Homo sapiens: one gene and its partners. The protein of the gene in region 4 purifies or fractionates together with the protein of the main gene of each other region. This does not show direct contact. Each region holds a gene or a part of one and is shown on either strand. Other genes may lie near its edges. The genes, in order: ITIH3, STK11IP, SLC25A4, THTPA, SLC25A13, SLC38A10 and TTF2.

Region 1 (2,251 bases), on a different chromosome or scaffold from region 4:
TGAGTGGATACGTGGGTGAACAGATGGTTGAATGGTGAATGGGTGGGTGGGTGAGTGAATGGATGGATGGGTGGAGGGATGGGTGAATGGATGGTGGATAGATGGATGGATAGATGGAAGGGTGGCTGACATCCCCATTTAGATGTGGGCTGTATCTGCACTGGAGTATTATCTACTTCTAAAGGTCCTGATTGGAGCTCCTGAGCCGGGACCATTTACTTATCTTATGACTTTCCTGGATACTGAAATACATTCAACCCTTCCTGACTTCTCAGAGCCCCTTTCCTTCAGAGTCAGTTCTTTATTTTTTCCCCCAAGCTGTCATACATTTGAATCCCTAAAGTTCTAGTCCAACCAACTCTGTCTCTCAGCTGTGTCAGTGGAGAGGCCCAAGAAGTTGCCTTCCTGCTAGCCATCCCCTCTTTTGAGCTGCTGTGGGTCCCAGTTGCCTGTTCCCTGGAGCAGAGGCTCATGAAGGCATGTAGAGGCTGGCAGCTGTCTGGTCTCGACCTTGGACTTTATTTTCCCAGCCCCTCCCACAGGCCCCTCTCTGTGCCCATGTTCCAGATGCCATAAAATCCGGGCCATCCATCCCAACAGGAGCTGGTGTGTCTACTCAAAACAGGTTGGGGACAATGTAGTCAGTGTGGACACCATCAATCAGCCCTTCTCCGTTGTTGTGGACGAACCAGCAGACAACCTTCGTGCCGATGCTGGCATCCTTTCTGTAGTCTTTCTGGGAGCCCCTGGGGAAAGAAGAGAGATGCTGCAATACACGGGGTGGGTAAGATGGCTGCTAGGCTAGCGGACCTGAGATTGAAAAAGGGTGGGAAGTTGGCAATTCTAACAGCCCAGAATTCTTTGGTCAAGAATGAAGTTACATGATTACTCTTTCGAGGAAGCCAAGTTTGGGCTTTTTCTTGATTAGCAAGAGCCTGGGAGGGGCCAAGACCTCAAAGGGAAACAAGGGTACCCCACAGAAGACAAAAGCCCACCAGACTAATGTGCCTGGGCTGCAGGTGCTCTTTCCTCCTCTCGTTGCTGAGCAGGTGAGGGTGTGGGAGAAGTCTCCTCACCTGGTGACAATCAGCTGATGGTTCTTCACCACCAATGTGGCATCTGGCTTTGTGGGGTCAGAGCCTGGCCGGATGTCAGACACTTTAAAGTCAAAGGGTTGGAAGAATTGCCCTGGGAAGAAAAATATTCATGCTGTCAGCCCCTGGCCATTGCCACGGGTAACGTGGCCACTGGCCTTTCAGGGTTGATGCAAAGGCTGAATGGGGTGTTGTGAGCTGGGTACAGGGTGCCTAGGAAGGCCTTGTGTATGTCTTTCCCATGCTGCTCTCAGGCCTGAACAGCCTGCAGTCTGAACACTTCGTACCCAGCAGCCCATGCGTCTGTGCTGACATCCGGTGACTGTCCACCACGTAGAAGCCTAGAAAGTCACGGTGGACAGGATGTTTCTTCCACACCTGGTGTAGGACGACCACGAAGGTAACCCCATCTCCAAAGGAGACCACCATGTTCTTCCTGTTGATCATCATGGACAGCCTACGAGAGGAAGCCAGAAAGTGGCTGTGGGGCCCAGTGGCCGTGACACTGGGCATCTGACTCAAGGGCGTTTTGGTGGGGCCTCCCCTGTACATGGCACCCGAGGGCCCACAGACTCCAGAAACTATCTCAGGGGCGTTGGAAAGAGGATGCCTCATGCACACTGTCTCCCCTCCCGTGAGTGGATCCTTGAGTGTCTATAAGTGGGAAAGAGAGGGCTGGCCTATGAATCTGGAGGCCTGTGGTCCAGCCTCAGCTAAGCCACTGACTTCCTGAGTGACATTGGGCAGGCTCCACACCTTCTCTGAGCCTCAGTGGGAGGCTCTGGGGGATCTGAAGACAGGAGAGCTAAGAAGACAAGAGCAGCCACAGAAGAGGCAAATGGGGGCCATTATCACCTAATGCCTTCACCCAACCAGCTGAACTGTGCAGCTACCAATTCTGGCTCTGATAGGGCCCCAGGGTTTGGTTGGGGGCCACTATGGTCACCCTCCCCTGTGACAGGAGACTGGATTCTGGGGTCTCTGATCTTTCCTGTGACCCCCATGGATCTCCTGTCCTGGGATTTTTCTAAATCCCTCAAGAGCCTCCTTAGACTCTCACCCTGTAGTCCACCTTGGAGACCTTGTAGGGGAGCTTACCCATCCTGCGTGACTGTGACTGTGTCCAGCCAGCTGAAAGTGCTCGGCACGGCCCTGTT
Region 2 (4,164 bases), on a different chromosome or scaffold from region 4:
TGCTGGCCTCGGCCTCCCAAAGTGCTGGGATTACAGGCGTGAGCCACCGCGCCAGGCCACGGCCAGCTCTTACATAGAAAGGTGGGGGGAAGTTTAGGTTTTATGGCTGGCTTTGGGGGAGAGGGCTTCTAGTTTCTGTGACTCATCTTGGGGAAGAGGAATTCTGGTTTCTATGGCTTGCCTTGGGGAAGAAAGAAGGCTGGGAGACAGGAGGGCAGGAAAAGGTCGGAGAGACTGTGCCTGAGGCCTTCCAGTCTCTTTTAGTTCAAAATAGTCAGCATACCAAAGCGCCGTATTTTGGGGTATTGTTTTTCTGAGCTCAACACTGCTGCTTCGGATGTATCTCCACTTACTTTATTTAACCTAAAAGGCTTTCAGCTCAGAGCACAAGTAGTATGCCATGAATGCGAAATTGTGTGGTTCAAATATTCAAAATATTTGAAATATTTGCCATTTCAAATATTTTGTCTTGAGAAAATAAAATCTTTCAAATCTGGCAACTTGGGATAAAGATGACTATGATCCTATCCCTCCTTTCAACTGGCTTAGGATTCATTTTGATTTTCCTCTGTAGAAATGGGGCGCTTCATGAAAGAAACTCTCTCTGAAAACCAGGAATTCTGTTAAAAGACCTTTTTGCTAATCTAGTTCAGTAGTTGACGTTAGCATTTGACGGGGAGCCTGGTGAAAGCTACCATGAGAATTCGGAAGCAAGAAACTGGCAGTCCTGGCGCTACTGGTTACTAATTGAACGACCTTCGCAAGTAACCTAGCCTCTGTGAACCTGTTCTCATTTTCAAACGCGGTTGAATAACTACTTTTCAACTAGGATGTTATGAAAGGTAATAGGGTAAAGACAAAGGACTAGGTTCGCGTGGAGCCCAGTACTGCTGAAGGAAAGATACACGAGTTTGGAGGGAGTCTAAGGAAAAGGAGGCAAAGGACCCCGGAGGTTATATCCTCGGTGGCCTCAGCTTTTACACGATCTAAGTCCATCCTACGGCGGATACGCTCTCCTTTCACTGGAAAATGACTGTTTGCGTTGAAAAAATTTTTATCTAACAAAGCTCCATTTCTCTAAACTTTGCTTCCCCGCCCAGTTTGCAAACGAGTCAGGGTTTCCTCACCGGCGCGGTAGGCTCGCCGAAAGCCAAGCGGGAGCCCCAGGCTGCGCAGGGCGGGGGAATAATGGGTGCCCAGCTCCGGGCCAGGAAGCCCAGGGAACCACTGCAGCCACCACCGCGGTCAGGAGACAGCCCCCGCACCGCCCCTTTTCGATTCGTTTGCATGATCTACGGCGCGGTTTCCGGCGGCAGAGACATGTTTTCCGGTCGTCCCTTGGCTCGATTTTCTTCCGGGGCGGGACTTCCTTTCCATCATTGATAGGCGCCGGGCAGCTGAGCTGGTAGGAGGACCAGACGGGGAGGTTCGGTATGTCTGACCAGGACTTATGTTCCTCGAAAGGGCGGCCAGGAGGATGCTCTTCCTCTCTTTTCTTTCTCGCCTTTTTCTCCGCATGACGCCTCGGTTTGCGCGGACGCCCTGGGCTTTTGGCACTACCGCCCACCTGAGGCTCTTCCGCTTCCTCTTTCCCCCCCCAGGCTCCGCCCCCCAGCGTCCCGTGGCCATGACGACCGCTCAGAGGGACTCCCTGTTGTGGAAGCTCGCGGGGTTGCTGCGGGAGTCCGGTGAGTGGACTTCCGGTTGGGCTGGGCCTCGGACCTCGGACGAGGTGGGGGTGGTGCTTTCTGGAGACACGCCCTGAGAGTCATGGAGTTACGACTGGTAGGGTCACCAGGTGTCAGAGTTCAATTTCTTTACTTTTCCCAGGTTTGTTCGCCCTTACAGTGTCCTTTGCCTGTGATAGCCTAAACTCTAGCCGTCCTTTGAGGCCAAAGGGCGGTATCCCTCCCTCCGTGCCTTCTCTGACACTGTCAGAAGGAAGTGATCATTACCTGACTAAAAGCCCCTCAGGACCAGGGACTGATCTCGGTCATAATCATTATTGTGTAGCAAGGTACTAAATACAGTAGATAGAAGCACGAGATTTGGAGTCGGACCCACTTGGGTTGGAATATCAACCCTCTTTCAAACTTGCCATACTGTTTCCTGAGGCTCAGTTTTCCTCACAGATTGGCATAGTGATTGTACTTAACATTTGTGGGGATTCGTTTTAATTCATGTATTTAGTACAATGCCTGCAAGTATAGTAACTGCTTACAGTTGGGAGCTATTGTTATTGTAATGATTTCCCTGATGCTTGGCACTGTGCCTGGGCATAATGGAGCCACAGTAGTTGTTGAATACTTGGTTGGCATTAGTTGTGGTAGAAAAAGCCTTGGCTTTGAGATCAGATAGGAGAAGTAACTTCCTACCAATTATATGATCTCCATCAAGATTTTTCACTTTTTTGAACCTCAATTTTCATATCTGTAAGATGGGGTTAATAGTGCTTCTCTTTGAGAGATTCTGAGAAGGTTTGAATGAGATACCAAAGTCATCTGGTACATACTACAGTTAATGTTAGCTGTCCTCCATCACTCCATGCTCCTATTGACGATATCTGTGGAAGCTCTCTTTATAGCAGTTTTCTTTTCTTTCTTTTCTTTTTTTTGAGACAGAGTCTTGCTGTGTCACCCAGGCTGGAGTGCAGTGGCGCAATCTCAGCTCACTGCAACCTCCACCTCCTGGGACGAAGTGATTCTCCTGCCTCAGCCTCCTGAGTAGCTGGGACTACAGGTGTGCACCACCATGACCGGCTAATTTTTGTATTTTTAGTAGAGACGGGGTTTCACCATGTTGGCCAGGTTGGTCTTGAACTCCTGACCTCAAGTGATTAACCTGCCTTGGCCTCCCAAAGTGCTAGGATTAAAGTCGTGAGCCACAGCACCTGGCCAGTAGCAGTTTCATTTCCTGGCTTGTATTGATAACTTTGCAAATGTCTTATATCCTTCTCTGGGAGGAGACAACTAGGAGGCCCTTTGAACGTGGGAAGAGTCCTTGAACCATGTCTGTATCTATCCTCAGTGTCTAGTACATACAGAATCCTTCATGTCAGGTTGTAGGACTTGTTAATTTATTCAGTGATGAATGGTGGGTGTGTGAATGTGTGACTACAAGGAGGTAGCAGGAGAAGAGCTTTGTGGCAGCAGAATAGTTTTGTATCTTGATTGCGTGGCTGCAGGAATTTATATAAACAGCATATAGCTATATATACATATTGTACCAACATCAGTGTCCTGAATTTTTTTTTTTTTTTGAGATGGAGTCTCGCTCTGTCACCCAGGCTGGAGTGCAGTGGTATGATCTCGGCTCACTGCAACCCCTGCCTCCCTCCCAGGTTGAAGTGATTCTTCTGCCTCAGCCTCCCGAGTAGCTGGGACTACAGGCATGCACCACCATGCCCTACTAATTTTTGTATTTTTAGTAGAGACGGGGTTTCACCATATTGGCCAGGCTGGTCTTTAACTCCGGACCTCGTGATCCACCCGCCTTGGCCTCCCAAAGTGCTGGGATTACAGGCGTGAGCCACCACGCCTGCCCTTTGTGTTTTTTTTTTTGTTTTTGTTTTTTTTTTTTTTTTTTTTTGAGATGGAGTCTACCTCTGTCACCCAGGCTGGAGTGCAATGGCTCAATTTCGGCTCACTGCAACCTCTGCCTCCTGGCTTCCAGCTGTTCTCTGGCCTCAGCCCCTCGAGTAGCTGGGATTACAGGCGCATGTCGCAATGCCCAGCTGAGAATATTTGTATTTTTAGTAGAGACGAGGTTAGAGTCGTAGAATAATTTTTTGTGTTTTTAGTGGAGACGGGGTTTCACCATGTTGGCCAGGTTGGTCCTGAACTCCTGACCTCAAGTGCCTTGCTCCCAAAGTGCTGGGATTACAGGCCTGAGCCACGGCAACCAGCTCAGTGTCCTGACTTTGATATTGTACTATAGCTATATAAAATGTAACCATTAGGGAAAACTGGGTAAAGGATACAGGGGACCTTTCTGTATTATTTCTGCAGCATTCTTTGACTCCATACTTATTATATTTTTTAAGCCAAAAAAGCATTCCTTCATGCCTAGCTTGTAGCTGCACTTTTTTAGGTGCAGTGATGAATACCAGAGTGATCAAAAGATGCCCTCAAGGATGAAAGTCTCATTAGAGAGAGCAGTTTTAAC
Region 3 (4,161 bases), on a different chromosome or scaffold from region 4:
CTCTGGCAGCTTTCCACTAGTTTCTAGCTTTCATTCTGCTTACCTGGATTTCGGAACTCTAGCCTGCCCCACTCTTAGATAAACGCATGCCCTCTGTGGCCCTGGAACCTTAGTGACTTCTGCTATACCAAAGTCTCCACGCCCAGGGTGACACGCAGCTGCAGCTCCGTAAACCTCTAACATGATGTCAGCAAATATTAAAAAAAAAAAGTTTATAAAACAATGAATAAACTTTGTTAAAGGTACAAATGAAAATTAGCAAACATGGGAAGATAATTGAGTGAAGAGTTTAAAGTTAAAAACGAATTGCAGTCATTCTAGGGGAAGGAACAGTTGTATTTGAAAACCTGTATGGTTACATGAACTGCCTAAAAAACAAGCTAAGGAAAATTAAAGCTCAGATTTATATATTTTAAGAAATTAATTGCAATTAATTTCCTGGGATTAAATAGCATTTCCTCAACCCCAGCTGTCATTAAAAAGAGGCAAATACAGCCAAGGACTGGATCTCCGGAAGGCTGACAGCACTGACCCTCAAGAAGGCACCGGCTGACAGACAGAACATTCTGCCCTAATATGTGCTGAAATTCCGCTGAGAGCAGAGTGGTACATTGAACCCTTTAGGGGCTTACAAAAGAAGTGTCCTGTGTTTTAGAGTCACAGAGTTTTGCAGAAACAAGTATGAATTCACCTAGTGGCCCCCTGCACCAGGTCTTTCCTGTGGGCACTGAGTGCCAGACACATCAATATGTAATAGCAGAATGAATGACTGAACGAACGATTGAATGAAAAGAAATGAGAGGCAGCAGGTTGTCAGATTCTATGAGGCAATCACAGCATCAGGTGACCTTAGTATCTATTTGAGAGGACTGCCATTTATTCTCGGGAGCGCACGGCTCTAAAGAGGCCCATATCCAGGCAGTGAGCTCTGGTGGGGGGCGCCTTTAGATGCAAGAAGGAGGAAACAGCTCGAAATCCCTGGGCCTGAGCGCGGCCCGTGCAGGCCGGAGGGTCAAGAACTCTCCACCGGCGGCAGCGGCCCGGTGTCTGCCCCGGCTTCGCCCCGGCCTAAGGCTGCCTGTGCTATAAATACGCGGCCCACATGCCGCGGTGACACGGTGTTCCCTGGGCTCGGCGGGACAGATAACATGAATGTGCCCTTTAAACGTCCCAAGTTGCAGGGACAGCCCCCGGCCCAGCCTCGCTCCCGGAAGCGCCTTCGCCCCCGATGCCCTCTGCAGCTGGGAGGAGGGGGCGCCCCGCACCTGCCCAGCCAATGCGCGGCGCGAGCGCCGGCCGCGACCCGCCTCCTCTCGCGAGAGCCCGGCGGGGATATAAGGGGGAGCTGCGGGCCAGGCGGCGGCCCCCTAGCGTCGCGCAGGGTCGGGGACTGCGCGGCGGTGCCAGGCCGGGCGTGGGCGAGAGCACGAACGGGCTGCCTGCGGGCTGAGAGCGTCGAGCTGTCACCATGGGTGATCACGCTTGGAGCTTCCTAAAGGACTTCCTGGCCGGGGGCGTCGCCGCTGCCGTCTCCAAGACCGCGGTCGCCCCCATCGAGAGGGTCAAACTGCTGCTGCAGGTGAGGACCGCGCGGTGCAAGAGGCGGGCGCGGGCGCGGCGGGCCGGGCGGGGCGCGCGATGCGGCGCGAGCTGCAGGGCGCGGGGCGCCGCGGAAAATCTGCGCCAGGCCACAGGCCCGGGCGCCCGCCCGCCCGCCCGCCCGCCCGCGGGGGAAGAAGGTGCCCTCTGCGTAGAGACAGGTCCAGCGTCAGTCGCAGATTCCTGGTGTCGGGTGGCGCCCGGCGTTCGGGTGTCTATATATGGAAACCCACCCGGAGCCGGTTTACGTGTGCCAGATCCTGCGCCCGTGACAGCACGGGCGTGCACTCAGGCCCGGAGGCACCTAGTGATTGCCAGTATTTTTGGCACCGTCTTATGCGCACGCACCTTTACAATAAAAACATCAAAATAATCATCACCCAAGAATTCCCTTATCGTATCTCATGCACAATGCTGTATGTAGGCTGACGCCTTCATCTTTATGTAACCTCTGTGAGAGAGTTATTCTTCTCCATTTTACAGATGAAGCTGAGGTTTTGAAATATTAAGAAACAATTTTCGGAATAAACTCAGATCATCCTGTCTCCAAATCTTTTCCTCCCCTACCTGGTCGCTGAATGGTTTATCATCCTCTCGTGTTTTCCTCCACCTGCCCAAAAGGTCAGGGCCCCTCAATGAGGAAGAGCCCAATTTGGGAGTCAGAATTACTAACAACAAAACCCCCACAAATTGCTCACAACGGCAGCAAACCCTTAATAATTGATTACTTGGATTATCTGCTTGAAAACTTTGGAGGCCTAATGTTTAGTGGATTTATTCTCCTTCCTCTATTAGAGCATCTAGTAGAGATCCTCATCTCCAGGGTGATCAGAGTGACACTGAGAAATTGTCATTTTTTGGCCATCATGTCTATTAAATCCAAAGCCCTTTGAAGCAGGGAGTGTTACTCATTTCTGTCCCCCAGTAAGCCCCTCATACAGTTCTCAAACCTAGGGAAAGTGAAATAAATAAATGGCTATAGCTTTATATAATTCAATCACCTTTTCAGTTTATTTGGGGCAATACCTTTTCCCTCAAATACCCTAATAATTGAAGCAACATTGGATTATTTTGGCTTGTTATCCAGTAACTAACATGGATAACAGTATCCATTTACACGTCCTCAGTATCCATTTGATTTCCTCATCCTTTTTTTCTTCAAAAAAAAAATCTAGGAAGTGCAAACCTTTTTTTTTCTCCTGTCCTCTTCCCTTCTCTCTACCCTGCCTGTCCTCTGTCACCCACCCTCCCCTCCACCAGGTCCAGCATGCCAGCAAACAGATCAGTGCTGAGAAGCAGTACAAAGGGATCATTGATTGTGTGGTGAGAATCCCTAAGGAGCAGGGCTTCCTCTCCTTCTGGAGGGGTAACCTGGCCAACGTGATCCGTTACTTCCCCACCCAAGCTCTCAACTTCGCCTTCAAGGACAAGTACAAGCAGCTCTTCTTAGGGGGTGTGGATCGGCATAAGCAGTTCTGGCGCTACTTTGCTGGTAACCTGGCGTCCGGTGGGGCCGCTGGGGCCACCTCCCTTTGCTTTGTCTACCCGCTGGACTTTGCTAGGACCAGGTTGGCTGCTGATGTGGGCAAGGGCGCCGCCCAGCGTGAGTTCCATGGTCTGGGCGACTGTATCATCAAGATCTTCAAGTCTGATGGCCTGAGGGGGCTCTACCAGGGTTTCAACGTCTCTGTCCAAGGCATCATTATCTATAGAGCTGCCTACTTCGGAGTCTATGATACTGCCAAGGGTGAGAGAGGGGCATCGGGGAGAAGGAGGGTGGTGTGGAAAGAGGATCCTATGGGATCTATAACTCACAAAGGACCTGATATATATTGATCTTGTTTTTTCTAGTCTCTGGGATAATTGAGGCTTCTGAATGAGGAGGTGATGTGCATAAGTTAATAGCTGAAGCGTTCCTTGTGTCCTCTACTGAAATAAACTCTGGCCTTTAGTTATTCAGAGAGGAGGAGGGGGGAGCCTGTCTCCCTCTAGACACAGCCATAGCAGTTACTGAGTTTAACTTGAAGCCACTTCCAATGCCCTGTATACAAGCTGAGCACTGCCCCTCCGGGGTCCGGAGAGGGCAGCAGCCACCTTTGCTGTCTGCCTGGTCATATGTGAAGCACCTGCACAGGGGCAGGTTCCCCGCAAGGTCAGAGCATGGAGCTGGAGGTGCAGTGGCCTCTCTCCCTCCACCTGCTTTCTGCTGAGAACAGGCACTTCATAGCCGTTCGGCTTCTGGGCTCTGTCCACAGGGATGCTGCCTGACCCCAAGAACGTGCACATTTTTGTGAGCTGGATGATTGCCCAGAGTGTGACGGCAGTCGCAGGGCTGGTGTCCTACCCCTTTGACACTGTTCGTCGTAGAATGATGATGCAGTCCGGCCGGAAAGGGGGTAAGCTTGTGCTCTACTCATCTAAACTTGTTTGGTTTTGCCCGAGGAGAACATTTTACAGGGCTCCTTTCAGTCTTCCTTACTGGAAATTAATTTTCAAAATTATTTGATAAGGACTTAGGGAAGAAAGATGGTATTAATTCCCCCTAACGTTCTCAACTATCCT
Region 4 (4,267 bases):
ATCATAGGAAGGAGTCCAGGAGTTAAGAGCCACGGTTCCTCAGGGAGCTTCCTCACATGGAAGGTCAGACATATAGTTAGAGTCTCCAGATAACCATAGTCCTCAGAGGGAGTAAGAAGGAATCATCTCTATTAATATTTTGTCTCCCAAAGCATTCAAAGGGCCAACCCCCATGTTTTCCTGAATTTTATTTTTTTGGGGACAGATGGAGTCTCGTTCTGTCGCCCAGGCTGGAGTGCAGTGGCGCCATCTCAGCTCACTGCAACCTCTGCCTCCCAGGTTCAAGCAATTCTCATGCCTCAGCCTCTGGAGTAGCTGGGAACACAAGCACGCGCCACCATGCCCGGCTCATTTTTGCATTTTTAGTAGAGACGGCGGGCCGGGGGGGTTTCTCCATGTTGGCCAGGCTGGTCTCGAACTCCTGACCTCAGGTGATTCACCTGCCTCGGCTTCCCAAAGTGCTGGGATTGCAGGTGTGAGCAACCGCACCGGCCTTTCTGTATTCTAAATGAACATAAGTAGTTCTACACCTGACAAAAACTGCTTAGGGACCGCTGGAAACTCTGACAAACTCCTCAGTCTAGCACTCAAGGCTTTTCCCTCAACTGCATTTCTAGCCTCGTCTTCTCCTTACGTACCACCCAGGTGCTCTCCAGTTTCTGGGCCTTTGCTTAGGCTATTCCTGTCTCCATCTAGGTCTCCAACTGTTGAAATACCATCATATCTTTAGTTCCTGGCCAAAATACCACTTTATTCTCTGACAGAAAGTTTCTCACCCACTCTTACCCTCAACGTTCATGCCAGGAGGTATTAGATCCCCTCTAAAACTCCAGAGTAGCTAAACTGGACTTTATTACGCGCTGCCCCCGCCCCCTTCCCTCCCCCCACCCCAACCCCCCTCGCCACCATTGCCACTGGCCTGCGCTTAGCTGGCTGCTATAGCAGATATCTGTTGGACGGTGTGAATGGCTTGTATTCCAGGCCCATCTGCCTGCGTTGGGGGTGCGGCGGGGGGTGTTGGAGACGGGACTGGGGCTTGAGCTCCTTGCACCCGACTCTCCCCGCCGCCTTGTAGCCCCAGTTCAGCTTTAGGTAGAGTACCGCAGGCACCAAGTGCAGCTTTCCTGTCGCCATAGCGACGGGCGGGGCGAGATGGCAAAGTCTCCCTTTGGAACTACATCTCCCATCATGCATCCGCGCCTCGGGGTGCCTGGCTCAGCCTCAGGCATGAGACCTGTACCAGCCCCCGGGAGCCGTGCGGGGCCAACAATGAGGAGCAGAATGCAAGGGGCGGCCTCGCTCCCCTGGCCACCGCGGGGGTCGCGGCCTCCCATTACATAGCGCGTGTCTCGAGCCCTGGCCTGCTCTCGGCACCGCCACAACGGGCGTAATATGGCCGCTGGTGCCGGGACCTGCCGGGCGCGCGGAGGGTCGGGCCGAGGTCCGGGATCCGGAACTGCTCCCGGCATTCCTCGCGAGTGTATGGCGTGGGCTCCCTTCCCCCTCTGTGGGTCCCGCGAGGAGACTCTCGGGCTTTGAGGTGAGACCTGAAGTTCCGCTGGCCGGTAGTGTAGCAGGAAAGGGCAGGTCCTCCCGGGTCGTGAGCCAGTAGCCTCCTGGGGTGGCAAGGTGTAGAGAGGGGGGCGTTGAAAGGACACCCGCTACCCGGCCTGCTTTCTAGGGGTCTCTTTGGATTGAGGACATCAGCAGCAGTGGAAGGGATTTTACTGGAGACCTGTCACTGTCAGAGCCTTAAAATATCACCGACGGGGCCTTAATGTCACCGAGGTAGAGAGAAAAGGGCAGTAGCCCTAGAGACTATTGCGACACAGTGTGCCCCTCATAAGTTTTTCCAGGGAGGGGTTCTGTACTGAGTTGACGCCCCAGGAGCTGAGCACCAGGCTTTGCATCCTTGGGAACTCAGCAAACGTTTGTTCAGCCAATTGCAGGTAGCATGGCCCAGGGCTTGATTGAGGTGGAGCGAAAGTTCCTTCCAGGGCCTGGCACAGAGGAGCGGCTGCAGGAGTTGGGGGGCACCCTGGAGTACCGGGTCACCTTCCGAGACACCTACTATGACACCCCTGAGCTGAGCCTCATGCAGGCTGACCACTGGCTGCGACGACGAGAGGATAGTGGATGGGAGCTCAAATGTCCTGGAGCAGCAGGTGTCTTAGGACCCCACACGGAGTATAAGGAACTCACAGCGGAACCTACAATTGTGGCCCAACTCTGTAAGGTGCTGCGGGCTGACGGCCTGGGGGCTGGAGATGTGGCTGCTGTGCTGGGCCCACTGGGGCTGCAGGAAGTAGCTAGTTTTGTGACTAAGCGGAGTGCCTGGAAGCTGGTGCTCTTGGGAGCTGATGAAGAGGAGCCACAGCTCAGGGTGGACTTGGATACAGCCGACTTTGGCTACGCTGTGGGTGAGGTAGAGGCCCTGGTGCATGAGGAGGCTGAAGTACCAACTGCCCTAGAGAAGATCCACAGGCTCAGCAGCATGCTTGGTGAGGGAGACAGGCCCTTTTGTGCTTTTCCTGCTCCCCACTTTTCTCTTTTGGAGGCACCTGCTGGACCATGCAGTGGGGGAGGGCCTCCGGATTAAAAATTTTTTTTTTAATAGAGACAAGGTTTTGCCGTGTTGCCCAGGCTGGTCTGGAACTCCTGGACTCAAGCAATTTGCCTGCCTCGGCCTTCCAAAGTGCTGGGATTACAGGTGTGAGCCTCTGTGCCTGGCCTGGATTATTTTTGTAATGGGAATTGTTTTAGCAATTTTCTAAGTTTGCTTACAGTTCTGTGAAATCTCGTTTTCTCTTTAACAGTAGCTAATTTGGATCTAGTCCTTCCACGTGTCTAATTCCAGCCAACCTGCCTCATTTAGTTCTCATACCTATAGCCAGATCTCCTTCAGTTTCATTTCTCAGTTCCCTGCTTTGACTCTTCCTTCCCCCAATCTCTTTTTTTTCTTCTTCTTCAGTCACCACTCCTCCACAAGGAGTAAAAAGTAAGCCTTTTTACAAAAGCTGCCCTCTGGGAGGCTCAGACCCAGGATCTTCAGATCATGAGACTGATGCACTGCCCACTACACTGAGAGTCCAACCAGTCTTGTCCTTTTGTTTTACAATTACCTAGATCCTTTTAATTTGTCCTTTTGGCTTTTTGTAAAGGACAATAACATTATAGTTATGTGAGACAGTGGGGCATGATTTGGCAGATTTGTTCCTAAGCATAATTCCCTTGTAGACAGTTCATCCACACTAGGAATTGTGCATCCCATGGGGCCTTACAGCCCTGCAGTGCTGTTTGAGCCCCCTCAGCAAACATACACTGAGTTCCTTGCTATGTGCCCAGCATGCTGCCAGGCACTAACAACAAGACACTGGCAACAGGCAGTTCCATTCTCACCTCACCATGTAGAGGCGAGAATTCTATGTGAATCCCACCCCATGGCTATAGCTTCCCTCCTCTTCTTTCTATAGCTCTTGGTTTCTATGTGTACATCTCTGCATGTGCTTCATTACTAAGCTAATGAGCTTTGGCCTGGTCTAGGGCTTTAATCTTGATTGCGGAACAGGGTAATAACTGAAATGAGCTGACGCTGAGGCATCCTTCGTTTATCTTGGTGCCTGGGTGCCTCTTCGCCATTTCTCCTTGCTGGAGGAGAGAGGCTGAGGTGTGGCTTCTAGTCCCACTCTTGCCTGAAGTTGCTCTTTTAGGTCCCACTTCCACAGGCAGGCAGGGAGTGGACTAGTGTGTTACAGAAGCTGGGTGGGTGACATTCAGAACCCCAGTGTGGCTTTGGAAACATCCACGGAGTCCTGGCTAGGTGGGCAGGGAGCAGAGTCCAAGTGCTTGTGGCTCTGTCCATTTCTCTCCTCATTGTCCTTTTACCTGTAGGTGTGCCTGCACAGGAGACAGCACCAGCCAAGCTGATTGTGTATCTACAGCGTTTCCGGCCTCAAGACTATCAGCGCCTGCTAGAAGTGAACAGCTCCAGAGAGAGGCCACAGGAGACTGAAGATCCTGACCACTGCCTGGGCTAGGGGTGTCACTTCCTAGAAGGGGAAGGGAACTCTGGGTCTAACGGAGTCCACTCCTGGGCCCACTGTGCCTCTCCCCTCAGTGTCCCTTCTGACAGTGACTCCTCTCTCTCCAGCGCTGCCTGTTTCTTCCCCCTCCTCTAAGCTACTCTTCCTTGAGCCCTCCCTGGCTGCTTCCTCTCGCTCATCCGTCAGATGCAATCTGTGGGCCGCCCCTCTCCCCTGGCCGCTAA
Region 5 (3,500 bases), on a different chromosome or scaffold from region 4:
AAGGCCATCCAGCTCCAACAAGATAAGAACCCCTAAAACCCAAACAGTGGAGCCATAGATATTTGTTTTAATAATCATCATCATGGTAGCATAAAAACAACTCAAACCTTCTTTCCTCCATTCCTAGCACAAAAACTGATTTGTTTTATTATGATATCACCAAATACTTAGTAGAGTTTTTACATAGGGGAGAAAAAACCCTGCCATTTGAAGAATATCTTTAATAACCTCAATATATTTTATCCTCAATGACAAACCTCTGAAGAGGGTTTTATGATGGGTGAACAATGTGGAAGACATGGAGGTTAAATATACAGCCCAAAGCCTGGGCGACATAGCAAGACCCCCGTCTCTACAAAAAAAAAAAAAATTTTAATTAGCTGGGTGTGGTGGTGTGTGCCTGAGGTCCTAGCTATTCAGGAGGCTGCGGTGGGAGGATCTCTTGTATCCACGAGGTCTAGGCTAGAGTGAGCAATAATCACACCACTGCACTTCCACCTGGGTGAGAGAGTGAGACCCTGTCCCAAATATATATATATATATTATAGTCCAAATCCTAATGGAAACTGGATTAAAGGTATATGACAGTGGTGACAGTTACACAACTCTGTGCATATATTGAAAACCAATAAATCATATGCTTTAAATGGGTAAATTGTATAGTACTTGAATTATATCTCAATAAAGCAATTAAATAAAAGGTATATGACAATTCCTGTCCTGCAGGGATTTGCGATCTGGTTGGAGAGATGAGAAATACACTTAATAAACACTGAAATGAAGCATATACAGAGTGACAAAGGTGTTCTAAGATAAGAACTACTGGACTGGGATGATCAGGAAATATACACATCCATACCCGATGGCATGTGAACTCTCACACATACACCTTCGCAAATGGAACTCTTGGTAAGACCTGGGAGAGCAGCGCAGAGGTTAAGAGCAGAGACTCTGAAGACACATTGGCAAGGTTCAAATCAAGACTGTAGCACTTACCTGTTGCACAAGCGTGAGAAATTACTTAACCTCCCCTAACTCAGTTTTCTCACCTGTAAGTTGAAGTCAAAAACAGAAAGCACCTACTTCTTAGAATTAAGAAAATTAATTGAGTTACTATTTGTAAGGCTCTTGGAAAAGTACCTGGCATGCAAAAAGCACTAGGTAAGGCAGTTCTCAAATAAAAGTCTGGTTTACACTGAGACACCTACCCCTCTCCTAAGTCATCTCCCACACCTCTCCCATATACTTTATTCTCCACCACACTAAACTACCAGGCACACATGGTGGACAGAGTGAGGCCACAGCTGCTGGAGCCAGACTGGCAGGATTTGAACCCCAGCTCGATAATTTCCTAATTATCCGATCTTTTTTATTTTATTTTATTTTTTTGAGACAGAGTCTTGCTCTGTCACCCAGGCTGGAGTGCAATGGCACGACGTCAGCTCACTGCAACCTCCGCCTCCCAGGTTGAAGCAAATTCCCCTACCTCAGCCTCCCGAGCAGCTGAGATTACAAGAATGCACCACTATGCCCGGCTAATTGTTTCCTATTTTTAGTAGAGATGGGCCAGACTGGCCAGGCTGGTCTCAAATTCCTGACCTGAGGTGATTCACCTGCCTCGGCCTCCCAAGGTGCTGGGATTATAGGTGTGAGCCACCGTACCCAGCCATACTTATCAGATCTTAGGCCACTAACATCACCTCTTGGTATCTCAGAGCCTTCATCTATAAAAAAAGGATGATAGTAACTAACTCAAAAGGCTGAGGCATTAAATGAATCAACAACGAAACACAGTTGGAACTGAATTTTAAATGAATCAACAATGAAACACATTTGGAACTGAATTTGGTATCTAGTAAGCGCTCAGTAAGTGTCAGCTGCTTTTAGTTTTTATTACCTGCTGTTAACTAAATGTAGCCTGTGCTCTCACCTCCCAGCCCTTCATTTGTTTCCAACCACTGGATTGGATCTTTACTCTTCCCCATCCATTCCTTCTGAAATACTAGCAATTTTCAGAAGACTTCCCTCATCTCCTCAGAAATGGGCTCTTCTCCTACTGCTCCCACAAACCTTGTAGTGGGAGCATTTCCATCAGAGAACTTAGCCCCCTGGAATGGTTTTGGTTTTCTTGAACATCAAAATGGAGTCCAATTCATTTTATTTATTTTATTCTATTTTATTTTATTTTATTATTTTATTTTACTTTATTTTATTTTTTTTTGAGACAGGATCTCGTTCTGTAACCCAAGCTGGAGTACAGTGGTGCTATCTCAGCTCACTGCAACCTCTGCCTTCTGGGCTCAAGTGATCCTCCTGCCTTAGCCTCCCAAGTAGCCGGGACCACAGATGCGTGCCACCATGCCCAGCTAACAATTCATTTTAGTATTCTCAATTTTGTCCCATTTGCAACACTGGAAAGAACACAATACACATAAATGAATCAATGATCACAGCAACAACTCATCCAAGAATGAAAAGTCAATACAAAGTGTACTAGTCCTACAGACCAAATTGTCTTTATTATTAATGCTTTAATGTGCCCCCAAATTTCCTTCTTTTGGTTCTAGGCTAATATTGGTCTGTGTTCAGTTTTACCCCAGAACATCTCACAGGTCTGAACTCAAGGGAGCATATTCTAACTTTTAGTAGGTTCATATAGGTTAATTACATCATTCGTAACGCATAAATTTAACCAATGACGAAGAAGAAAGCTCTCCTTTAACCAAGAAAAGGGCAGAGACGAAGAAAAGGGTGACCTCTCAATTACCACCTTTTAAAACTGTTTTTTTATGGCAGTTTTGGGAAATGTTTAAAAGAAATATTCAAACAACGCAAACAGTACAGGCAGATCTAACAAGGGAACCCACAAGGATTATTCCTACAAACGTAGGCAGCAAGAGAATGGACACTTTTTGAGATAATCTCAGAATACTAAGAGTTTTAGATTAATGTTCATTCACGAAAGAAAACAAACACTTCTTGAACCATTAACTAGTAATCTTCATAGCAAAATTCAAAATAAAAAGCAGCCAAAGACTAGATTCTCCATCTCCCCATTAAAACTATTTAAAGGAAGGTCATGAATAATTAGCTGTATTTAAATAAGTATAAAGACCAAAGAAAGAAACAGATCAGAAAACTAATTGCTAGTTGTGGCTACATCTATCCAGAAAATACCAAATCTGCTTAAATATTCAAACAATTTGTCACAGTGAGTGTAGTGAGTGTTGGAATTCTCACAGTTGCTGAGTCCCCAGAGTCTCAGCCCAATTTCCTAACAGTCCATTGAGGTGAAGTCCTCTCCTATCCAGGCTCCTCAACTTTTAAGAGGGAATGCCAACCCTACCCCTATGGCTCTGTGTTCAGCTGGCAACATGGAATAGCTATGCTCCAGGGAAAAAGCAAGGAGCACAGCCTTTAACTCAGGCTGCCAACAGAATCAACCGATAAAGGTGATGCCCAAAGGCAGTTCAATAAGGGACATTCTTGGAATAAGTTAG
Region 6 (3,500 bases), on a different chromosome or scaffold from region 4:
CCGAGCGCCACAGCCTGCACCAGAGGGACTCTGACGGAGGGCTTTCATTTTCACCCTTTGGTTGGGATTTATAGAAACAAATGGAGACTCCTTTCGAGCATGGTGCTTCAGGAAGGGAGGGGACGAGAGCCCTGGGCTTGTGGTGTCCACGTGGACAGCTAATGAGGAGCCTTGCCGATGAGGAGCATGCGTTCCCGACGGGGCGGCCGAATGCGGAAGGAGCCGCCATTCTCTCCGCCCTGACCGCGGGATTCTCTGCAGCAGATGAGAAACGGCGCTGACTCAGCAGGGTCCCTCCCAGGCCCCGAGCGGTCATCTGGTGACCCCCGCGCTTCCCCCACGGCCCAGCCGGAGAAGGGCAAAGGGAAGTCCCGGCTCCAAGGCGCACCCAGAGATGCGGTGCATGTGGCAGGATGGCCCAGCCCCGTCGGCAGCCCCAGCTTCCTGCCCCTGGTTTCCTTCCTCCCACGGGCTACAGGCCTCTGATGAGCTTTGGAAAGCAGGAAACACACAGGCTAGTAACTATGAATGGGTCCAAAAAACACTCCTTATTACTTTAAACTACTTAGGAAGAAGCACAGCGTTGCCAAACGCCAGAGCCCGGGAGCAGCAAAGACCCCACCTCCAGGGCTCACCCTGGCCTTTCCTGGACCTGCCTATGGGCTCGCTGAAGAAGCCTGGCACCCCTTGAGTTCATCCCACAACACGGAAACCCGAGCCAGGCCCCAGAAGCTGACCTGAGGCTGTGGAGAGTTTCAAACACTAAGAACTCCAGGAGCCCCCTCAGCAGCCCACAGCCCAGGGCCCTGCTGTCACCAAGGAACGCCCTCCACACCCCTCAGTGACGGCACAGCCCGGAAGCAACAAAACACGGCGCTCCAAACATGAAGTTGCTCCTGGCCATAATGTGCCTTTTCATTCTCCAAAAGGAAGCTGAGTCTCTACAGCATATTCCAAACACGAGCGCACCTTGCCCAAGAAGGTTCCGGAATATGCCTGCCACTGGCAAGGGAAAATGGGAGGCTGTCTAGGAAATCAGGGCAGCACTCTCTTCTGGTTCCCAGGACAACGTCCTGAGAGCCCACCACGCTGAGACACGGCCCCACGCGCCTTCTTTTCCCCACCTGGGCCAAACCCTCACCCGCCATTCCCAGTGTCAATCCCTCGGCAACTTCTCCTCCCCAGGTTCAAACACCAGCCCCAGTTGGACTGACCCCACTCCTTCACATCCTGCGTGGACTGGCACAGAGAAAGGGAGGAAGAGGCTGAAGCGCCCAGCAAGGTCCCGGGGACCCAGCCCTCCCCCGAGTGTGGACTCCCAGTGCGGGCCCAGCCCCTGCCAGGCTGGAGGTATCTGTGAGCGGCGAGCTCTGAGGGCGCGGCCTCCATGCAGGGTGTACCCTACCCCAGGTGCAGTCAGATCTCCCCCAGAGCCAGCACAGGAGCCACAGAAGCCTGGACCACCCAACGAAAGGACGCGGGCAGCACTCCTGACACCGCTGCTCACAACCGAGAACTCAGAGGCCGCGTGGGGGCCAAACAGTCCCTGCTGCTGGGGGAGGCGGTTTCTAGCCCAGACCACGCATGCCAGGGTTCAGGCACAACTCTCAACAGGGCAGGGTCTGGGGCTCAGAACAGCTTCATGAGAAGCCGCGACAGCTGAAGGAGGCTGAATGACTGATGTATCTGTGTGTCTTCTGAAGAGGGGATTTAGAAAAGTCCATGTCCAAGCAAGACACGCAGGGCAAGGAAGCAGCAAGTGAGAAGGTGACGAAAACGACAAAAACCACCTGCAACCAGCAACAGCAAATAGGACAGGGAAATATACAAACACCAACAAAAAACGACACCTCTCCAGGCTGGCACATGGCACTGGAGGACAGCGGGGAGGGTAAAGCGATCAGCGGCCACCTCCCCAGGCTAACCAACCCGAGGAACCATTACACCGCAAACCTATGCCTGGGTGGGGGCAGATGCCATTCGGAGGAAACCACCCAGCCGTCCCAGGGAAAGTCAGTCTGTGTGCGAGGACGGGACCCAGCCCGGCGCCTCCTGAAGACTGCAGTGTGGAGCTGCTGTCCACTCTGCACAAGGGCCTCGCCTCAGCTCCAGGAGAGTCTCATCTTACCCTCCCCAGGGACGCCTCTCCCAGCGCGGGTCTCCCCACTTCTAAGACGAGCCAGGGCACACTGCAGCTGACGCGGAGCAGCTGGGCCCAGGGGCCTCTGTCCGGAGCTCACGCAGTGGAACCACCGTGTTTGGTGTCAAAGGCATAACCTGAGACACACTTGGTGTTTTGGAATCTTTTTTGTTTCTGGCAGGCAGAAGTGGACTGCGGTCACCCCATGCAGGTAAAGGTTGGAAGCTCAGGCAGGAGTTCCAGGCAGCACAGAAGAGCACCCACCCGGCAATTTTCTTCCAGTCCTTCACATGTAGCCAAACTGGTTTGACTTTTCAGGGACTTTGAATGAATAGACAGCTGGCTATCAGAAATGGGGGCCTCCCCAGCCCTGGGTCACCGGTCTTCTTCCAGGACACAGCCAAGGACTGGAGTTGGGGCCTCTGCTACAGAAACCCTATACAGAGACCTCAGTGAGGAGAAAAGGGTCGCCCTGCAGGCCACAGCTCTGCAGACCCAGGAAGGGGCCCGCCCAGGCACGGTGCCTCCTGGCATCCGGTAGGCATCTTTCAGCCCAAGTTGCATTAGGCCATCTCACTGTGGATCAAACTTAACAGTGAACTTCACTTCCTCAAATAACAACAAGAAAAGACTCTGACAGCACCATTCTCATCAGGAAGGGAGGAGAAGGAATACATCCCCTCCGGTTCTGAGGGCCGAAACGAACGCAGGACTCTCTGTGGCAACATGAAGGGGACTGGGAGGAAGTGGAGGCTGGGAGGCCAGGACCCACGTGTGGACCGTGCAGGTGTTTTTATTTTGTTTGGCCCCCTGGACCCCTAAACACCATTTCCTCTCCCGCCACCTCCTCACTCTGCCGCGGGAGCTGTGAGCCCGGGGGGCAGGATGGCCTTCTGCAGGGAGGACCTAACATCCCAGCCGCACACTGGCTGGAAGGTCCAGAGCCTTCATCACAAGGCCAGAGTTTTCACCAAAACCCACAGGGCCAACTCCTGAGAACACGGATGCTGGAATTTCAACACCCAGGCTGGATGCCCCCAGAATGGAACGTGGAGCCGAGAGGTGCCGAGCCTGTGGCGGGCAGGGAGACAGCGCGGGCCACACAGCCTGTGGGCAGACGGGAAGGTGAGGGATGGCGCCCTCGAAGACAAACAACGTAGAAAATATTCCACACTGAAATGAAGCAGAAAGCGCAGCCTTCTCTCCTGGCTGAAACAGCATTAAAGCAAGAAAGAACTAAGGGAAACAAAACTGCAACCAACAGCATCAGGGGAAGGACACAGCCACTGGGAGAGGAGCCACTGAACTCCAGCAACAGCCCAGGCCTGAGGAGCTTCCTCCATGGAATTCCGAGTTGGGG
Region 7 (3,500 bases), on a different chromosome or scaffold from region 4:
TAGGTTTGTGTAAGTTCACACAGTGACGTTCACACAAAAATGAAATCTCCTAATGACGCATTTCTCAGAATATGCCCCCATTGTTAAATGACTCATGACTGTAGTGTCTACTTTAAAACTCATGCCATGTAGACTTTCAGGAGAAGGGCAAGATTTGCAGAACTAAGGAAAGAAACACACTGAACATCTGCTATGTGCTAGGCACAGTGCTAAAAATGCTTTCCCTTACATTTTTAATTAAAATCAATCTGGATGAGCTTTTCTGATTTTAGGATAATAAGTTTGTTTGTTACGTTTTATTATATTGTAAATCAACAAAGAATGCAGTGGAAATATATTTTCGCAGAGAAAGCAAATATCAATTCCACTATAAGAAAAGCATTAATTTCTGCAGTATGTTTATTAATTGTTTTCCAGGACAGAGGTTATAGGCAATAACGATGAAGGGACCAGCTAGAAGAAGCCAGACCTCTTCAATCCTGACTTCTTCACCAAAACACAAATCCTCCCATTTTCCTAAAGGTAATGTCCAACTCAACATCACACTGCCAAGTGCATTCACTTTAGCAAGGCTACAGTTCTCTCAGGCTCCAGAACTATTCTCCCTTGGTTCAAATCCCAGCCCTACCACCTAATTAGTTCTGAAACATCAGACACCTTAATTGACTGCCCCCTGTGGCAGTTTCCTGTTCTGTAAAATGGCAAAATGATATAGTCCATACCTCATACGGTCATGATGAAGACAAAATACAATCAGAGCAAAGCCTGATACATACCAAGGTCTTAAAAGACAACAGCAATGCCAAGCTCACACTGGCTGATCACTCTGCTTATTCCTACATCCACACTTCTGCTGAAGCTGTTCTGCCTCAACACTTCCTTGTCCTTTCCTCCATCAAAATTGTCAAGGTCATTCAAGGACAACTTCAAGTCTCAACTCCTCTACTTTCTCTGTAACCTTCCTAGCCCTGAACTGTATGTCTTAGAGTCACAGAACCATCTCGCATCTGAACGTCTTCAATTTAGCGCTCTAATGTGCAGAGGAGACTGCACCCCAATCTCAGTACATCTAACTCTTATTCCAGCTGTGTCAAAGGCTCCTTAGGGATTATGAGTTCACATCTTTACATGGTCCAGCTCTGGAAAAACATAAAGCCGAATGTCTACCTCATTCTTTTACACGAACTTTCAAGATGGAAAAAAATGTAAAAGTAAAAAACAAAATTGTAAATGTTCTAGGAAAAAAAACAGATATGAATATTCTTGTAGTCCTAAAGTGAAGAAGGCTTTTCTAAGCCTGGGATAAAACTCTGAAGCTGAGAAATAAAGAATTTAGTAATTTTTAAAAGTTTACACTACCATATGATGAAAATACCATAAGCAAAATTGTAAGACAAAAAGCAAACTGGGAAAACGTAACTACCACACATATCACAAAGGGTTACTATACTTTATACAAAGGGATTGCTCGCACTGCACAGTGCAGTGCATGGTACTGTACACCGCCTCACAAGTATGGCTTTATTCAGTGGTCCTTCACAGCTGGTGGGGCCTGAGGTTCTGGCTGGGTCTGGCGCATGCCTGGTTGCCTCTCTATCACCATCCTGCTCACTATACTAGGGCTAGATAATCTGCAGGTCAATTTCACCCAATAGCCAACAACACGAGGAGTTTTCTAGACATGTGAAGTTTCAAGGGTTATTAAAAGTAAAATATTTTGAACATCTACCACAACCAATTAATTTTTTTTTGGAGGTGAATATTTTTCTTTTTTTTTTTTTTATTACACTTTAAGTTCTAGGGTACATGTGCACAATGTGCAGGTTTGTTACACATGTATGCATGTGCCATGTTGGTGTGTTGCGCCCATTAACTCGTCATTTACATTAAGTATATCTCCTAATGCTATCCCTCCCCTCTCCCCCAACCCCACAACAGGCCCCAGTATGTGATGTTCCACGCCCTATGTCCAAGTGTTCTCATGGTTAAGCTCCCACCTATGAGTAAGAACATGCGGTGTTTGGTTTTCTGTCCTTGTGATAGTTTGCTCAGAAGGATACCACAACCAATTATTTAAAGAACTAAAACTTGTTATACCCACGTCTAAGCAAAGAAATATTTCCATTTATTTTGACCCTGTATCCTTGAGTGAAAGTTCTGTGAGAAACAGAGAGAAAGGAAAATATGAACTCAGGAGCTCAGTGACAATGCCCAAAATTTGTATACCAGGGTGTACCACATCGTTCATGTCAAGGCAAGATTTCTTCCCCCTGGTTCTACTGAGATTATCAGTTTTCTTTACTGCCTGTACACAGAGGGCCATGGCCGAATGGCTAGTCAAATGCTGGTCAGTGGTGCCATCTGGTGTTTCAGTTAGAGATCTGCACACAAATGCAGCTACACTGCAAGAGATGAAAAATGGGCATCTTCGCCTCAGTTTACACCTCCCTTCTATTACTCTGTTGCACCTGTCTCCTGACTACATTCAGCCAAACATAATAGTATTAATTAGAGGATGTAAAATATTTAAGTTATTAAAAAGAAAACCCAGAGTATGTGAGGGAAAGGCTGTACTCTCATAGGTCACTCTCCAGGGGTTCTGGCTGAACACCCTTAATGTTCACTAAGGAAGCCATCATCCATATATAGACTTATCTATTTCTGTTTAAATTCCCAGTCTATGCTACCTATCAGAGTACCTGGTTTTCTGTTGTTATTGTTTTTTAATGTGTTGTGTGTTAAGAACTGCCTTTTACTTTTATTTGTCCTAAGACAACTTTTTTTTTTTTTTTTTTTTTTTTGAGACTGAGTCTTGCTCTGTCATCCAGGTTGGAGTGTAATGATGTGATCTTGGCTCACTGCAACCTCCGCTTCCCCGGCTCAAAGTGATTCTCCTGCCTACTGAGTAGCTGGGATTACAGGCACACGCCACCATGCCCGGCTATTTTTTGTATTTTTAGTAGAGAGAGTTTCACCATGATGGCCAGGCTGGTCTTGAACTCCTGGCCTCAAGTGATCCGCCGGCCTTGGCCTCCCAAAATGCTGAGATTACAGGTGTGAACCACCATGCCTGGCCCTAAGACAAGCTTTTTAAAGCTCCAGTAAGTACTTCCTAGTAATAGTGCTCTGAATTTAGGCTAAGAGAAATACATGTAACATACTTTTTTGTTCTATTTTAAAATAATAAACCCTTCTCAGTCTTATCCATCTAGTACAAAGAACGTTAACAGCAAGTTCTCAAAATTCTGACCTCAGTCAGGCCTTTCTTCAGAGCTGCACACTCATTTTTCTAGCTGGTTTCACATGAAAATAAGACACAATTTGGCCAGGTGAGGTGGCTCATGCCTGTAATCCCAGTACTCTGGGAGGCTGAGGCAGGCAGACCACTTGAGGCTAGGAGTTTGAGACCAGCCTGGCCAACATGGCAAAAGCCCATGTCTACTAAAAATACAAAAATTAGCTGGGCGTCGTGACACACACCTGTAATCCCAGCTACTCGG

What was found.
Region 1: the proteins of THTPA (region 4) and ITIH3 purify together in Homo sapiens (affinity purification with mass spectrometry; 2 studies listed by BioGRID and IntAct, with this or other methods). This does not show direct contact.
Region 2: the proteins of THTPA (region 4) and STK11IP purify together in Homo sapiens (affinity purification with mass spectrometry; one large-scale study listed by BioGRID and IntAct). This does not show direct contact.
Region 3: the proteins of THTPA (region 4) and SLC25A4 purify together in Homo sapiens (affinity purification with mass spectrometry; one large-scale study listed by BioGRID and IntAct). This does not show direct contact.
Region 5: the proteins of THTPA (region 4) and SLC25A13 purify together in Homo sapiens (co-immunoprecipitation; one large-scale study listed by IntAct). This does not show direct contact.
Region 6: the proteins of THTPA (region 4) and SLC38A10 purify together in Homo sapiens (affinity purification with mass spectrometry; one large-scale study listed by BioGRID and IntAct). This does not show direct contact.
Region 7: the proteins of THTPA (region 4) and TTF2 purify together in Homo sapiens (affinity purification with mass spectrometry; one large-scale study listed by BioGRID and IntAct). This does not show direct contact.

Annotation. Positions count from the first base shown.
Region 1 is NC_000003.12:52,807,047-52,809,297, reverse strand, and holds the end of ITIH3 (inter-alpha-trypsin inhibitor heavy chain H3 isoform 4 preproprotein), read right to left. Parts: coding exon 2,193-2,251; intron 1,713-2,192; exon of another isoform or gene 1,576-1,712; coding exon of another isoform or gene 1,552-1,575; coding exon 1,382-1,551; exon of another isoform or gene 1,349-1,381; intron 1,189-1,348; coding exon 1,077-1,188; intron 781-1,076; exon of another isoform or gene 747-780; coding exon 617-746; 3' UTR 501-616; downstream 1-500. UniProt on the Homo sapiens protein: May act as a carrier of hyaluronan in serum or as a binding protein between hyaluronan and other matrix protein, including those on cell surfaces in tissues to regulate the localization, synthesis and degradation of hyaluronan which are essential to cells undergoing biological processes.
Region 2 is NC_000002.12:219,596,493-219,600,656, forward strand, and holds the start of STK11IP (serine/threonine-protein kinase 11-interacting protein), read left to right. Parts: upstream 1-1,364; 5' UTR 1,365-1,431; intron 1,432-1,601; 5' UTR 1,602-1,627; coding exon 1,628-1,688; intron 1,689-4,164. UniProt on the Homo sapiens protein: May regulate STK11/LKB1 function by controlling its subcellular localization.
Region 3 is NC_000004.12:185,141,905-185,146,065, forward strand, and holds the start of SLC25A4 (ADP/ATP translocase 1), read left to right. Parts: upstream 1-1,361; 5' UTR 1,362-1,468; coding exon 1,469-1,579; intron 1,580-2,859; coding exon 2,860-3,346; intron 3,347-3,854; coding exon 3,855-3,995; intron 3,996-4,161. UniProt on the Homo sapiens protein: ADP:ATP antiporter that mediates import of ADP into the mitochondrial matrix for ATP synthesis, and export of ATP out to fuel the cell.
Region 4 is NC_000014.9:23,554,804-23,559,070, forward strand, and holds the start of THTPA (thiamine-triphosphatase), read left to right. Parts: upstream 1-1,467; 5' UTR 1,468-1,954; coding exon 1,955-2,501; intron 2,502-3,891; coding exon 3,892-4,037; 3' UTR 4,038-4,267. UniProt on the Homo sapiens protein: Hydrolase highly specific for thiamine triphosphate (ThTP).
Region 5 is NC_000007.14:96,315,599-96,319,098, forward strand, and holds part of SLC25A13 (electrogenic aspartate/glutamate antiporter SLC25A13, mitochondrial), read right to left. Parts: intron 1-3,500. UniProt on the Homo sapiens protein: Mitochondrial electrogenic aspartate/glutamate antiporter that favors efflux of aspartate and entry of glutamate and proton within the mitochondria as part of the malate-aspartate shuttle.
Region 6 is NC_000017.11:81,285,308-81,288,807, forward strand, and holds part of SLC38A10 (solute carrier family 38 member 10), read right to left. Parts: intron 2,043-3,500; exon of another isoform or gene 2,038-2,042; intron 1-2,037. UniProt on the Homo sapiens protein: Facilitates bidirectional transport of amino acids. May act as a glutamate sensor that regulates glutamate-glutamine cycle and mTOR signaling in the brain. The transport mechanism remains to be elucidated.
Region 7 is NC_000001.11:117,066,826-117,070,325, reverse strand, and holds part of TTF2 (transcription termination factor 2), read right to left. Parts: intron 1-3,500. UniProt on the Homo sapiens protein: DsDNA-dependent ATPase which acts as a transcription termination factor by coupling ATP hydrolysis with removal of RNA polymerase II from the DNA template. May contribute to mitotic transcription repression. May also be involved in pre-mRNA splicing.